Linked DNA regions of Homo sapiens: regions 2 and 3 are each linked to region 1. Evidence: fine-mapped expression QTL. A gene starts in region 1. Each other region holds a variant in brackets. All regions are shown on one strand. Distances are from middle to middle. Region 1 holds the start of IRF2BPL (interferon regulatory factor 2 binding protein like). Region 2 overlaps LINC02288 (long intergenic non-protein coding RNA 2288). Region 3 overlaps LINC02288 (long intergenic non-protein coding RNA 2288).

Region 1 (4,107 bases):
GCTTCTCCTTCAACTCGCGCTCCTGGTCTGTGCTCGACACCGAGCCGGGCCTCTTACCACCAGCACCCACGCCCACCTCTGCCACCGACGAAGAGGTCGAAGACGACGCGGAGGACGACGTGGCCGATACACCCGGGGTACCCCCGAGACAAGCGGGGCCCCCAGGAGCCCCTGGGGGAGCAGGCGTCGGGGGCCCACGGCTGCCCAGGGCGTGGGGAGGGGGTGGGGGGAGTACCGCAGCGCTGGCCGGGCCGTTAAGCAGCGTCTGCGGTAGCAGGTTGGGGGGCACGGTGAGCTGGGGGCCTCCGCCACCCCCCGGGTTGGGCAGCCCCGTAACCAGCCCACCGTGCGTTCCACGCCGAGACGCCACCGACGCCGCCGCTGAAGAAGAATTGGGGCTCTGACGGTTCAGCTCTGGGGGTCCCTCCTCTGGTGTTGGTTTGGGGAAGCCGTTTGGGCCCCCCAGGCCGTTGGGCAGTCGCGCGGTGTGGCTGCTGCTTCCCAGGCTCACCGGCGGTGGCGGGTACTCGAAGCGGCTGCGCTGTTCCACCGCAGCGGCGGCGGCGGCGGCGGCGGCGGCGGCAGCGCTTAGGCCGTAGCGCTCCAGGCCAGACGGGGCCGCCAGCACCGCAGGCTTGCTGGAACCATCAACGTGGTTGAGCTGTTGTTGCTGCTGCTGCTGCTGCTGCTGCTGCTGCTGTTGCTGCTGCTGCTGCTGCTGTTGCTGTTGCTGTTGCGCGGCGGCGGCGGCGGCCGCCGCTGCTGCCGCCGCCGCCGCCGCTTCCTTAGCCGACAGGGCCACTGTCTTGACCCCGACGGGCGGCGGCGGCCCGGGGGAGCGGCCGTCCTGGAAGCAGCCGTGCGCCCGCTTCAGCTGGCGCGCTGTCTCGATCACGAATTCGATGCGATCAGCGCCCTCGTAGTTGACGCAACCGCGGCATACGGGTTCCGAGAAGTCCCAGATCATGGCCCAGGGCATGCGGGGCAGGTCGCACAGGTAGCAAGATTGTCTCCGGGACGAGGACACCTGCGCCGCCGACATGATGCCTGCCCTGGGGAAGGTAGGCCCCCGCCCGGGCTGTCTCCGCGGCGCCTTCTCCTCCGGGAGGACTGGCCGGCTGGGGAGGGAGTCCGACTGCGGGGGAGGGAGGAGGGGGGGCGAGAAAGTTCTGCCCCAGGGGCTGGAGGGAACGCGAGTCTCCACCGCCGGCGCAGCGCCTCGCCGTGGGGGCTCCACCGCCCGGGCAGCGGACGGGTTCAGCCCTCTCTTCGCCCCCACCTCCTACTGCGGTTGACTCGTCGCGAGGGGAGCTCAGGCGCCTTCTTCCTGGTGCTGCAGACTTGGGCTGGAAGCTCCCGGCCCGAGGGGAGGGGGCGAGGGTGCCCGGTGGTGGCCGCCGTTGCCTCTTGGCCCCCTCCCCGGAGTGGCTGGTGCGTGGAAGCTCGAAAGGGGCTGTCTCTTCCTCTCCCCGGGGACCCCCCTACGAGCTGCGTCCTCTCCCCGACGGGCCCCCTGGGGCGAGGGCCAGAGGGTTCAGTGCCACCCGGTGCCCGGGTCCAATCTTGCTGAAGCCGCTGCTTCCCCGGAGGACCGGGGGAGGGGGTGGCAGCCGAGAAAGGACCTTCTCCCCTCCGCAGCGTCGGCCGTTCTGCTGGCGGCGACTGGGTTTGCACCCCGGAGGGAGCCGCCGCGGCCACTGCTTCCAGGACGCACGAGAGCAGAGGAGAGGAGTGCACGCACGCAGGCTCCCGCCGCCCCCAGGCCTGGCCGGCGCCCGGGCCGCCGCGGCTGGCGGCGCTCACGTTGGCTGCAGGGCGCTCGCGCGGCGCCTCGGCCCGGGTCGCATCCCTTCCCGCTCGTGCTCACGCTCGCCCGGAATGTGGGGTTGTGATTGTTACTCTACGTTCCGGAGGCGCGTCTCGGCGCTCCTGCTCCGGCTGCGGCTCGCGCTGTCCCCGGCTTGGCCGCGCGGGATGCCGCCCGGGCGGAGCGCTGACGTCACCGCCATGCTCTGCACCAGTTCTTCCCCCTCCCCTTTACACTTCCTCTGTGGAGCCCACTTGTTGCTCAGGCAAGGCGCATGCGCGGCAGGACGCCCAGATTCCTCCCAGCCGGCCCCTCCTCCGCGCCTCCGCCCTCCCCTCCCCCCTCGCCGTGTGTGTACAACAGCTGAGGCCCGGCGAGCTAATGCTGGAAGTCCAGAGCTGGGGGTGGAAATTAAACAGACGATGACCTTTCCTTTCCCTGCCGGGCATTCCCAAGTAAAAACGCATTTAAGAACCACTAGCGTCGTTTCCGATCCCTGCTCCCCACCCCACCCCCAAGCCTCGGCAGTGAATTTAAATGTCCTGTTTCAGGATTTTTCGCCGTGAATTTCGTATAAGGTATTAACCATTTCATCTGCGGTTGAACCTTATCCCCCCCGGCATGGATGTTAAATTCATCGCCACCACTGATGCCGAAGCACCTGCAAAATTAGCTGTTTTCCAATCTTCCAGAAATTGTCTTTTCTATTTGTTTTTGTGCCCTGATCTAGGAACCCGGGCTTCAACGATAGAGCTAAATGAATTCAGAGTGCGCTACCCTTCCCCCCAGCCGCACTTTAAAAATTTTGGCTGAACGTCTGAAGAAGATACGAGCACCCCGAGGCCTTTAAGGAAAACAGGCAACTGGCTGCGCACAGCTGCAGTTCAGGGCAGGGAGGGGGAGGGGCCGGAGAGGCCAAACAGGTGAGTGTTTTTTCTAGAGTTTGATTTTTAAAAGGTGGAGGCAGCATTTAATAATACTGATACATTTTTGTAAAGCACAGCCGCAGTTTTCAAAGTTCTTTCTCAGGCGCTGTGATCTCACTCCATGTTGCCCCAGAAGGCGGAACAAGGCCGTGATTTTTTTTTTTTTTTTTTTTTAAGACGGAGTCTTGCTCTGTCGCCCAGGCTGGAGTGCAAAATGGCGCGATCTCGGCTCACTGCAACCTCTGCCTCGCAGGTTCAAGCGATTCTTCCGCCTCAGCCTCCCAAGTAGCTGTGATTACCGGCACCCGCCATCAGGCCCAGCTAATTTTTTGTATTTTTGTAGAGACATGGTTTCACCATGTTAGCCAGCTGGTCTTGAACTCCTGACCTCAGGTGATCCTCCCGCCTCGGCCTTCCAAAGTGCTGGGATTACAAGCATGAACCACCACGCCCGGCCAAGGCCGTGATTTCTTCTGCCTTACAAGATCACTGCTCATCAGTATTGCTTATGGCACGATGGATATGTTGGTCATAGCTCTAGTTGGGGCATTTCTATTGATTATTCTAATTATTGGGTTTGCTTTTTTTTTTTTTTTTATTTCATGAAAACTGAGATAATCCCAGGGAAGGCTGGAGAAGGGAAAGCAATATAATGGGATTTCGGATTCTGAAGTGTGGCCCACCAGATTGAAATTTCCTCTCCATCACTAACTGGCTCTCCACCCTTAAGCTAGTTACCCACAAAATCTCTCTTTTCCATGGAAAAGAGAATGGAATGATAGCTCCCAGGTTGTTAGGGTTGTTTGAGATTTCAACTTCGGTTTTTTGTTTTTTTGAGATAGGATCTTGTTCTGTTGCCCAGGCTGGAGTGCAGTGGCACACTCGCGGCTGGCAGCAGCCTGACCTCCCAGGCTCAAGTAATCCTCCCACCTCAGCCTCCCTAGTAGCTGGGACTACAGGCATGTGCCATTACACCTGGCCAATTTTTTTGTATTTTTGGAAAGGGATGGGGTTTTGCCGTGTTGCCCAGGCTGGTCTCAAACTCCTGGGCCCAAGTGATGCACCCACCTTGGCCTCCCAAAGTGTTGGGATTACAGGCATGAGCCACCTCACCCGGCCTCAATTTGTTTCTTGTCATAAGAAGAGATAACGCTTACTTAGACTTGCCGTGGGACCTTAGTAAACTAGGTGGCTTTACTTGCATCACCCTTAATATTATCTACATTATTAAGGGGATATTATCTATAGTATTTTGTTGTTGTTTTGAGACAGAGTCCACTCTGTCACCCAGGCTGGAGTACAGTGACGCAATCTCAGCTCACTGCAACCTCCACCTCCCAGGTTCAAGCAATTCTCCTGCCTCAGTCTCCCAAG
Region 2 (4,107 bases), 25 kb after region 1:
GGGGAGCAGAAGCCACAAACTCAAGGCAGCCTCAGCTGCCTTCTCAAAGGCCGCCTTCACCTTAGAAGCTTGTTCCAGGGTCTCCTTTCCTGCTTGCCCCTCCCCTGTTGAGCTGGGTTCAGCACAGCCCTGCTTCGATGCTCAATTCTTTTTTTTTTTTTTTTTTTTTTTTGGCAACAGAGTTTCGCTCTTTCGCCCAGGCTGGAGTGAAGTGGCGTGATCTCATCTCACTGCAACCTCTGCCTCCCGGGTTCAAGTGATTCTCCTGCCTCAGCCTCCCAAGTAGCTGGGACTACAGGCATGCACCACCACGCCCGGCTAATTTTATAATTTTAGTAGAGACGGGGTTTCACCATGTTGGCCAGGCTGGTCTCAAACTCCCGACCTCAGGTGATCCACCCACCTCAGCCTCCCAAAGTGCTGGGATTACAGGCATAAGTCACCGCGCCTGGCCACTGACGCTCAAGTCTGTTCACCAAATCTTTATTGAGAATACTTTATGTAAGATGCCATATTCCTCCTGGCTAATGGTGGGGTGGGGTGAGAGATACCGAGAGCAAGATCAGAGTAGAAAGGACCTCAGAATGGCCTTTAAACTTGGGTGCCTCAGAACTCCAAAGCCCAAGTATTTAAGAAAGAAAAAAAGACTGCTGCAGTTTAATCTAGGGCAGGGATAGGGTCCTGTCCACTCTGCCTTGAGTCAGAGACTCCATGGATAACATCCAAACAACCCTGACCCAGACCAGGGGGGGATATAGAAGCCCAGAGAGGTGAAATGACCTCCCTCAGTCACACAGCAAGTTGGAGGCCCACTCAGGTTCAAAGTCAAGCCCAGTGCCTCGTCCATTGTACTGTCCTACCCCTTGGCACTTGTTTCAGAGATCAGCTGCGGAGATGGGGCGAGTCACCCAGGAACAGACAGACACACTTGCTACAGACTAAAGAGAACAAGTGGTTCTAACTCAGGATGGCAAAGGCTCCCCGGAAGAGGGGCAGGGAGCCGGGCCTAGGGCAGCATGGGCAGGATTGCTCATGGCACATGGCAGGGGTGGGGAGAGAGGTGGATGTGAGGAAGGAGGCAATTCCAGGCCTCAGAGAACATGATCTGCTAGCGCCTGAAGAAAGACTGGCAATCCAGAGAGCTGGGTTCCAGCCCTGGCTCTGCCGTGACAAGCCCCTGGGCCAGGGGCCTCCCCTTTGGGCCAGTTTCCTTGCATGTAAAATGGCAAAGAGGGTGGGCTAGTTGGCCCTACTGTGACATGCTAGGAAGCCTTCTCTCCTCCCACCACCACCAACACCACCCAGGACACTCCCCAGTGTGTGCCAGGTGTCTGGAATTGACACCAGGAGGGAGTGTCCCTGGCTGCCCTGTGGCACAGCATGGAGCTGGCAGGCCTGCCCAAGGTGTCTGCCCAGAGCTCTGGGAAACAGTGACAAACCATGAGGAGGCAGGAACTGGAGAAGAACCCGGGCAGGAGCCATTCCTCTTCTGAGAAGTGGTCTTTCCCATCTGGCCCTCTCCAGAAGCTCAGGCCTCTGCCAGGACTTGTTAGGGTCCCACCACCCCAAAGAGGCGAGGCCTCAAGGGTAGAGGGGTACGAGTCCCTGAACAACCCCAAGCCTCAGTATTCTCATTTGTAAAATGGGTAAAAATAGCACTTTAGTAGTCTCATTTGTAAAATTGATATCAGTACCTCAGATGATGAAATGAGATAATGCGTGTCAAGGGCCTAGCACAGCGCCTGGTGTAGGAGCCACACGTCCCAGAGGGCTGCCTGCTGGGGAAGACCGCATAATTTGAAGCCTCCTGACATAAAACAGGCTGGTTGAGGGAGGGCCCTTTCTGTCTAATACACCACTCGTCGGGACAGGATTGCAAAGGGGGCCTGGGGAGGTGAGCCCACTGGAAAACAATGTGTGCGCGCCCCCTGCTGGCTGCGAGCAGAGGTCCCGCCTGTCCGCTGGGGGTCTTCAGGTGGTTCGTGTTAGCACCACCTGCTGCTGCCGGGTCAATTGACCCAATATTCACAGATCACCCCCCAGGTGTCAGGTACCCCGCCAGGCTTTGGGAGGGA[T/A]GCAAAATGAGTGAAAGATAAGCTAGGTTTTTGGAGCCAACTAGTTTTGGTGTCGACCACGCATGGGTTCAAGCCCAGAGACTATCAATATCTGCTTGAATGTTCATTCATTCAACAGAAATGGTTCTGCATCGGGATATAGCAATGAACAAAGGTCCTGGCATCGTGGACTTGCGGTAATCTTAGACAGAGAACATAATCCCTCAGAGCTTCAGGTTCTCATCTGTAGCATGGAAGACTTCTCTACTCCTTCCCCTCAAACCAGAGGGTAGAGACCCTGGGTATGGATTTCAAGGTCGCTGTCATTAGTAGGAACTAACAGTCACCACCAACAGCCATCTCTTCTCAAAGGAAACCTCATCCCTTTGAGCCTGGGCTGTCATTCATTTGGTTCATTCTGAAGGGACCCTGTCATGCCAATCTCCCCAGGCTCTCCATCTACCAGGAACCCCGGAAGACCCCCGCCCCAAGCCATTCTGCTCCAGGGCAATGATAGAGCCCTAACCTCTAATGAGAGGTCATCAGAGTGGATGTGGGAGGATCGTGCAGTTACCCTGCAACTTTCTCTCCAGGTGACACATGGGTATTTCTCCTTAAATTAATTGGACTGGTTAGCCTCAGTGCCAACCTGGTAGGAACCATCGCCTGCCCGGATTCCTGTTCTCCCCCAGACCACTGGGCAAATCCTTCATGGTTGGTAGGGCTTTAAGGGCTAGAAGAGGATAGGAAATATGTTCTTGATGACTTTTTATTAACATCCAATTTTCTACTCCCCATGGCCTTCATTACACACACACACACACACACACACACACACACACACACACACACAGCAAAGGTGAGGATTGGAAGCCAGTTGATGCTGGAGGAATGCTTTAACACCCCTATCAACACACAACCCAAGTCGGGTCCAGCTTATTCTTTCAAGATGTCCACAGTTTCACCCCACGCTCAGGATATGTATGGGTGCGTGTGCTTTTGTACACACTCATATAGCAAACTTTGAGCTATAGCCAGGTACTAGGGCAATATTAGTAAACAAAATAGACAAACACAAACACAAAATCCTGCCCCACTGGAGCATACATTTGTGTGGGGGGGGCAGGGGGGAGTCTGGGATAGAAAAGTAAATAAGCAAGTAACATAAACATGATGTTTGAGGGTAATATGTGTTATGGAGAAAACTAAAGCAAAAAAGAGGGTGCCCCAAAATGAGTGGGGGATTTTAAATGGGGTGGTCAGGGAACGTCTCATTGAAAAAGTAACATTTAAATAAAGACCAAAAGGAGATGAGAGAGTGAGCTATGAAGCTATTTGGTAGAAGAGGGTTCCAGGCAGAAGAAATGGCAAACTCAAAGATACTGAAGCATGGTCAGAGAGGCTGTCCTAGTGGGAACAAGGAGAGAGGCGATGGGAAGAGGCAGGAGGTGTTGGGCTCTATTATTAATAAATTATGGTCAGGGGTCCCCCAATCCCCTTTTCCAACCAATATAGTTAATTTCATCCCTTTTCTTAAAGTTTTGAAACTAATACCTGTCTTGTAAACAAGCCATGACAAAGCTCTATTTAGAGAAATATGGTGGGGAGAGGCTAATCAGGGTAGATTTCCTGGAGAGGGAGGTTGGCTGACTTCTTCTCTTTTCAGGTGAAGAAACCAAGACTCAGAGACAGTCAATAACTTGCCTAAGGTCACAAAGCTAGAAACCGACAGAGAAGGGCTTACATCCATGCTTATCTGGTTTAGAAGCCACTGCTCTTAGCCAGGGTGCTGCCATGGTGACAGGCCATTTCCATTAGAGGAGAATGATGGCTGTTCATCTGAGGACCTGGAACAACACGGTCTGCGTGGCCATCACTCAGTCAGGGCAGAGCATGGGTACAGAATCGTGGCATTGTTTGGCTGAGAATCATAGATTCTCAGTGAAGCACAGGCAAGGTGCCAGGCCCCAGGCATGGGGTTTTAGATGCATGATCTCATTTAACTCTCATTTTACAGATCAGGAAATTGAGGCCTGTCACGCTTCCTGATCTT
Region 3 (4,107 bases), 34 kb after region 1:
CACCCAGCTAATTTTTTTTTTTTTTTTTTTTGGAACGAAGTTTCACTCTTGTTGCCCCAGGCTAGGGCACAATGGCATGATCTCGGCTCACTGCAACCTCTGCCTCCCGGGTTCAAGCAATTCTCCTGCCTCAGCCTCCTGAGTAGCTGGCACTACAGGCTCCAGCCACCACACCCGGCTAATTTTTGTATATTTAGTAGAGACGGGGTTTCACCATGTTGACCAGGCTGGTCTTGAACTTCTGACCTCAGGTGATCCACCCACCTCAGCCTCCCAAAGTGCTGGGATTACTGGTGTGAGCCACCACGCCTGGCCTAATTTTTTTATTTTTTGTAGAGACAGGTGTTGTCATGTTTTCCAGGCTGGTCTGAAACTCCTGGGCTCAAGCAATTCTCCTGCTTCAGCTTCCCAAAGTGCTGGGATTACAGGTGTGAGCCACTTCAGCAAAGAAATTTGTAAGAAAGGCAAACTGTCAGGCCCCACCCCAGACCCACTGAATTGGGAACTCTGCGGAAGAGGCCCAGAATCCGTGAATGAGCGTACCAGGGGCTTCCGATGCATGTTCGAGTTTCAGAACCACTGCTTGCAAGTCTTTGTGTAACAAAGGCCCCGAGGTGGGCAGGCGCAGGCACATTAGAGTACCCAAGGGGGGCCTGCAGGTGGGGCGGGAGTGGGGGTGGGGCTGGATGGTGGTTTACACTGGCCTTGCAGGCATGCTCAGCAGTTCAGCACGCATCATTTCCAGTCACCAGGAGGCCTGGCCAGAGGTTCCTCTGCCCTAAGAACCCTCAAGGAGTAGCAGGTCACCTGTGTGTCCAGGCTGGCCAAGTTACGTAAAAGCATGGAGATGACTATGACAAAGGCTTCTAGAGGCCCCTGGTCACCTGATCTTGACCATGTTTTGACTTCCAGGAAGCACTAGTCAGACAGTGAATTCTGTTGCTGTGAAAATGCCTTAGTCCTCAATGCCGAGAGAGGAACCCCAGAGGGAAACACCTCCTTATCCTCAAGAAGCCTTTGCAAAGGGCCTGTGGGTCCTGTTTCCCCTTGGATCGGTGCTAGCAAGGGACATTATCTGCTGAGCAGAGGGTTGCTAGAGGTGGCTTCTACCCTCCTCAGGAGGCAACCCTGAAACAGACACATTGCATTAAAGACCCTGCGCAGCAGAAGGCAGGTATCACCCGCTGAGAGAGCTGGTTGGGTGGAGTCAACGTGAGCTGCTGGAGCTGGGCTCATTGCACAGGAAGGACTGGCTGCTAGTTCTTTGGCTAAGCCTGAACAGGCTGGGTGTGGTCACACCTGCTTGCTGGACATGTTAGCCCAGAAATACATCAAAATTGGTGACAACCAAACAGCCCCCCAGACTCAGAGTCAAGTGGCATTTATGGGGTACCTACTATGTGCTAGACACTGTATGAGGCCCTTTCACAGGTGTTAGCTCTCTGGTAAAGCTCCCAAGTTTGCAGATCCCTTCTCCATCACCCTGTCTACAAGTGCAGATCAATCGTTAGTTCATGCTTGGTGCATCAGGACTCAGTGGCGAGCAGGACAGACATGGTATTTTCAGGGGCAACACAGCGGGGGAAAACAAAGAGATATACATGTGCCAGATAAGGAGCTATTGGTTGTTTTTAGGGCCAACTGTGAGGGTTCCCAGTGCTTTGTATCAAGAATGACTTTCTTTTTAAGGGTCTCTTGTAGAGAGAAAGAAATAAAGACAAACCACAGTTGGCTTGCGAGACTCACATTGGCTTTGCCCACAGTTACTG[G/GT]TTTTTTTTTGTTTTTTTTTTTTTGTGAGACGGAGTCTCACTCTGTCACCCAGGCTGGAGTGCAGTGGCACCATCTCGGCTCACTGCAAGCTCCGCCTCCTGGGTTCACGCCGTTCTCCTGCCTCAGCCTCCCGAGTAGCTGGGACTACAGGCACCTGCCACTACGCCCGGCTAATTTTTTGTATTTTTAGTAGAGACAGAGTTTCATCGTGGTAGCCAGGATGGTCTCGATTTCCTGACCTCGTGATCCACCCGCCTCGGCCTCCCAAAGTGCTGGGATTACAGGCGTGAGCCACTGCACCCAGCCTGCTCACAGTTACTGTTAAACACCACAGTAGAACCTGCCAGTAGCTGAGCACACGCAGGGCGCCAGCCACTAGACAGCATGGTTATCCAGCCACTAGACAGCATGGTTATCCATCTCACTTCCTCCTCTTTCCAGCTGCCCCGCCTCTCCATGGGGTTTTTCACAAGACGATCAGAGACCCAGAGACCCAAAGGAAAGGGAGACAATGGGGATTGGAGGCCACGGGCTTTAGGGGAAGGTAGGGGGCAAAAAATAGAGCATATGCAAAGCCCTGTCCTTGTTACTTCCCTCCCCAATCTCCACCACCACCCAACTGGCATATGAACTTGTTCTTCTTGTATACAGCTCTGAGCAAAGCACCATATGGCAGTTTCATCAGGCCCACGGCCTGGTTTCCATCCAGCCCACTCTAATTTCCTTCCAGTCATGGATCTGCAGAATAACCCATCCTGTGGAAGGAGCTCAGAGGAAGAAAAAGATAACAATAACAGTAAAGATATACAGAGCACAAACCACAGCGGGGAGCTGTTCCAATTATGTGTATGTTTGACGCTTGCAACAGCTCTAGGAATATCGCTGTTAGCATCCCCATTTTATAGATGACAAAACTGGGAGACAGATGTTCCGAGACATTCTCAAGGTCACATGGCTAGTGATGACAGAGCTGGGATGGGAGCCATGTTAACCGTCAGACTTTGCTGATTCGCTGAATCTTGGCTAAAAGATGTTGGCAGGAAGGGCTGAGAGCTTAGAAGAAGGGGTCCTCCCGGTCTGGCTGGGACAGGGTGATGCCAGCAAAAAGGCCCCTAAATCCACAAGCAGGGGAGGGGCGGGGTCAAGGCCCGGCTGACCTGACTCCAGCAAGCAGGGTCTGAGCTCCATAAGTGGAGGTGTCAGGGAAGCATGCAGAGGACTGGGAAGCAAGGAAGACCCCTGGAAGCAGCCCCCGCAGAGGAGGGTCAGGGAGGGCTGGGGGGCCCCCAGGAGCCCCAGGAGCTTGTCCCTCTTTGGGCTTCCTTCCGTGGCTAGGTTCTCTGCTCACCAGGAGTAAAGGGTAAGCATCCTCTCTGAGCCTGCAGAGCAGCAAGCCTGCACTGAGGCATTGTAGGAATGAGTGGCCCCTGGGATGGAAGGACCTGGGTATGGGTCTCAGCTCCATATCTTTGGGTTGTGTGGCCAAATCACACCCCATCACTCCCATGTCTGTGAGCCTCATCTATAGGGCAGTTAAGGAATGTGAATGGGCTGAAGTATCAGGAAACCAGCTGGGATCCTATCTCAGAAGAGGTGTATAGTACATGATCGTGCCCCTAGCCCCCATTCTTCCTTCTAGAACAAGGAAGGAGAAAACAAAGGCTCCCCGGGCAGTGAAGGCTGGGCCCTTGGTAGGCTTGGCAACCATGCAATCTCTAGAATGGAAGGGCTCCTCCCTCAGAGCACAGCCCTGGAGAGTCACAGCTGTTGCCCTGGGTCTGGCAGGACGAGGGAGGCAGTGCCAGGCTAGATAGAGAGTTTGAGGGACTCTAGGTTGGCAGTGGGGACTGTCATGCCCTGGCTCCTTTAGGATTCACAGGCCAGAGTGGTGGCTGTAGCCTAGTCCTCACTGCCAGAGACCCCACACCACAGTGGAGCCTGCACCAGGCACAGAGGCAGGAGGCAGAGCCATGCTTGCCCCTTTCTGCCATCCCTAGGATGCTAGAGGTAGCATCCTCCCAGCATGCTGGCAGGTGCGAGAAGGAGCTTTACTTGATGTAGCGACACCCCTGCTTCCCCCTGAGCCTTTGGGTTCCTTCCCACTTATGTCCCCTGCTGCGGGTCCACATGAGGGGCTTCTCACCCCGAGGCTGCCTCTACAGTGTCCACTGGACAACCTGGCCACCGCAGCCCCAGACTCAGATCACAAGGCCAGGATGGGCCTAGGATGCTTTGACCCTTCCAGCACAGCAGGAGCCTTTTGATGTGGGTCCAGGCAATGTCCAGCTCTCCTGCCCAGGGCTCGTTCTTGGAGAGTAAATGGGAAGGAACTTTGGA

What was found. PIP is the estimated chance that this variant, and not a neighbour inherited with it, causes the effect.
Region 2: its variant is the best candidate, but not a certain one, in a credible set for the expression of IRF2BPL in whole blood (INTERVAL, PIP 0.76).
Region 3: its variant is the best candidate, but not a certain one, in a credible set for the expression of IRF2BPL in monocytes after LPS (Fairfax 2014, PIP 0.51).

What each region holds. Positions count from the first base shown.
Region 1 is chr14:77,026,751-77,030,857 of GRCh38, forward strand. It overlaps IRF2BPL (interferon regulatory factor 2 binding protein like), which reads right to left and starts at 1,958. Exons shown (of 1, transcript NM_024496.4): 1 at 1-1,958. The coding sequence starts at 1,042. LOC107984638 (a long non-coding RNA gene) reads left to right here and starts at 718. Exons shown (of 4, transcript NR_190002.1): 1 at 718-1,061; 2 at 2,538-2,730; 3 at 2,911-2,986; 4 at 3,077-4,107. RefSeq lists silencers at 1,088-1,587, 1,708-1,917, 2,118-2,247 and an enhancer at 3,011-3,531.
Region 2 is chr14:77,051,499-77,055,605 of GRCh38, forward strand. The region is part of intron 1 of LINC02288 (long intergenic non-protein coding RNA 2288); the gene reads left to right. Among named protein-coding and RNA genes, the nearest start is that of LINC02288, 13 kb to the left of the region's middle. RefSeq lists an enhancer at 1,528-2,091 and a silencer at 1,903-1,952. The variant T/A (reference allele first, on the strand shown) is at 2,076.
Region 3 is chr14:77,061,186-77,065,292 of GRCh38, forward strand. The region is part of intron 2 of LINC02288 (long intergenic non-protein coding RNA 2288); the gene reads left to right. Among named protein-coding and RNA genes, the nearest start is that of LINC02289, 13 kb to the right of the region's middle. The variant G/GT (reference allele first, on the strand shown) is at 1,770.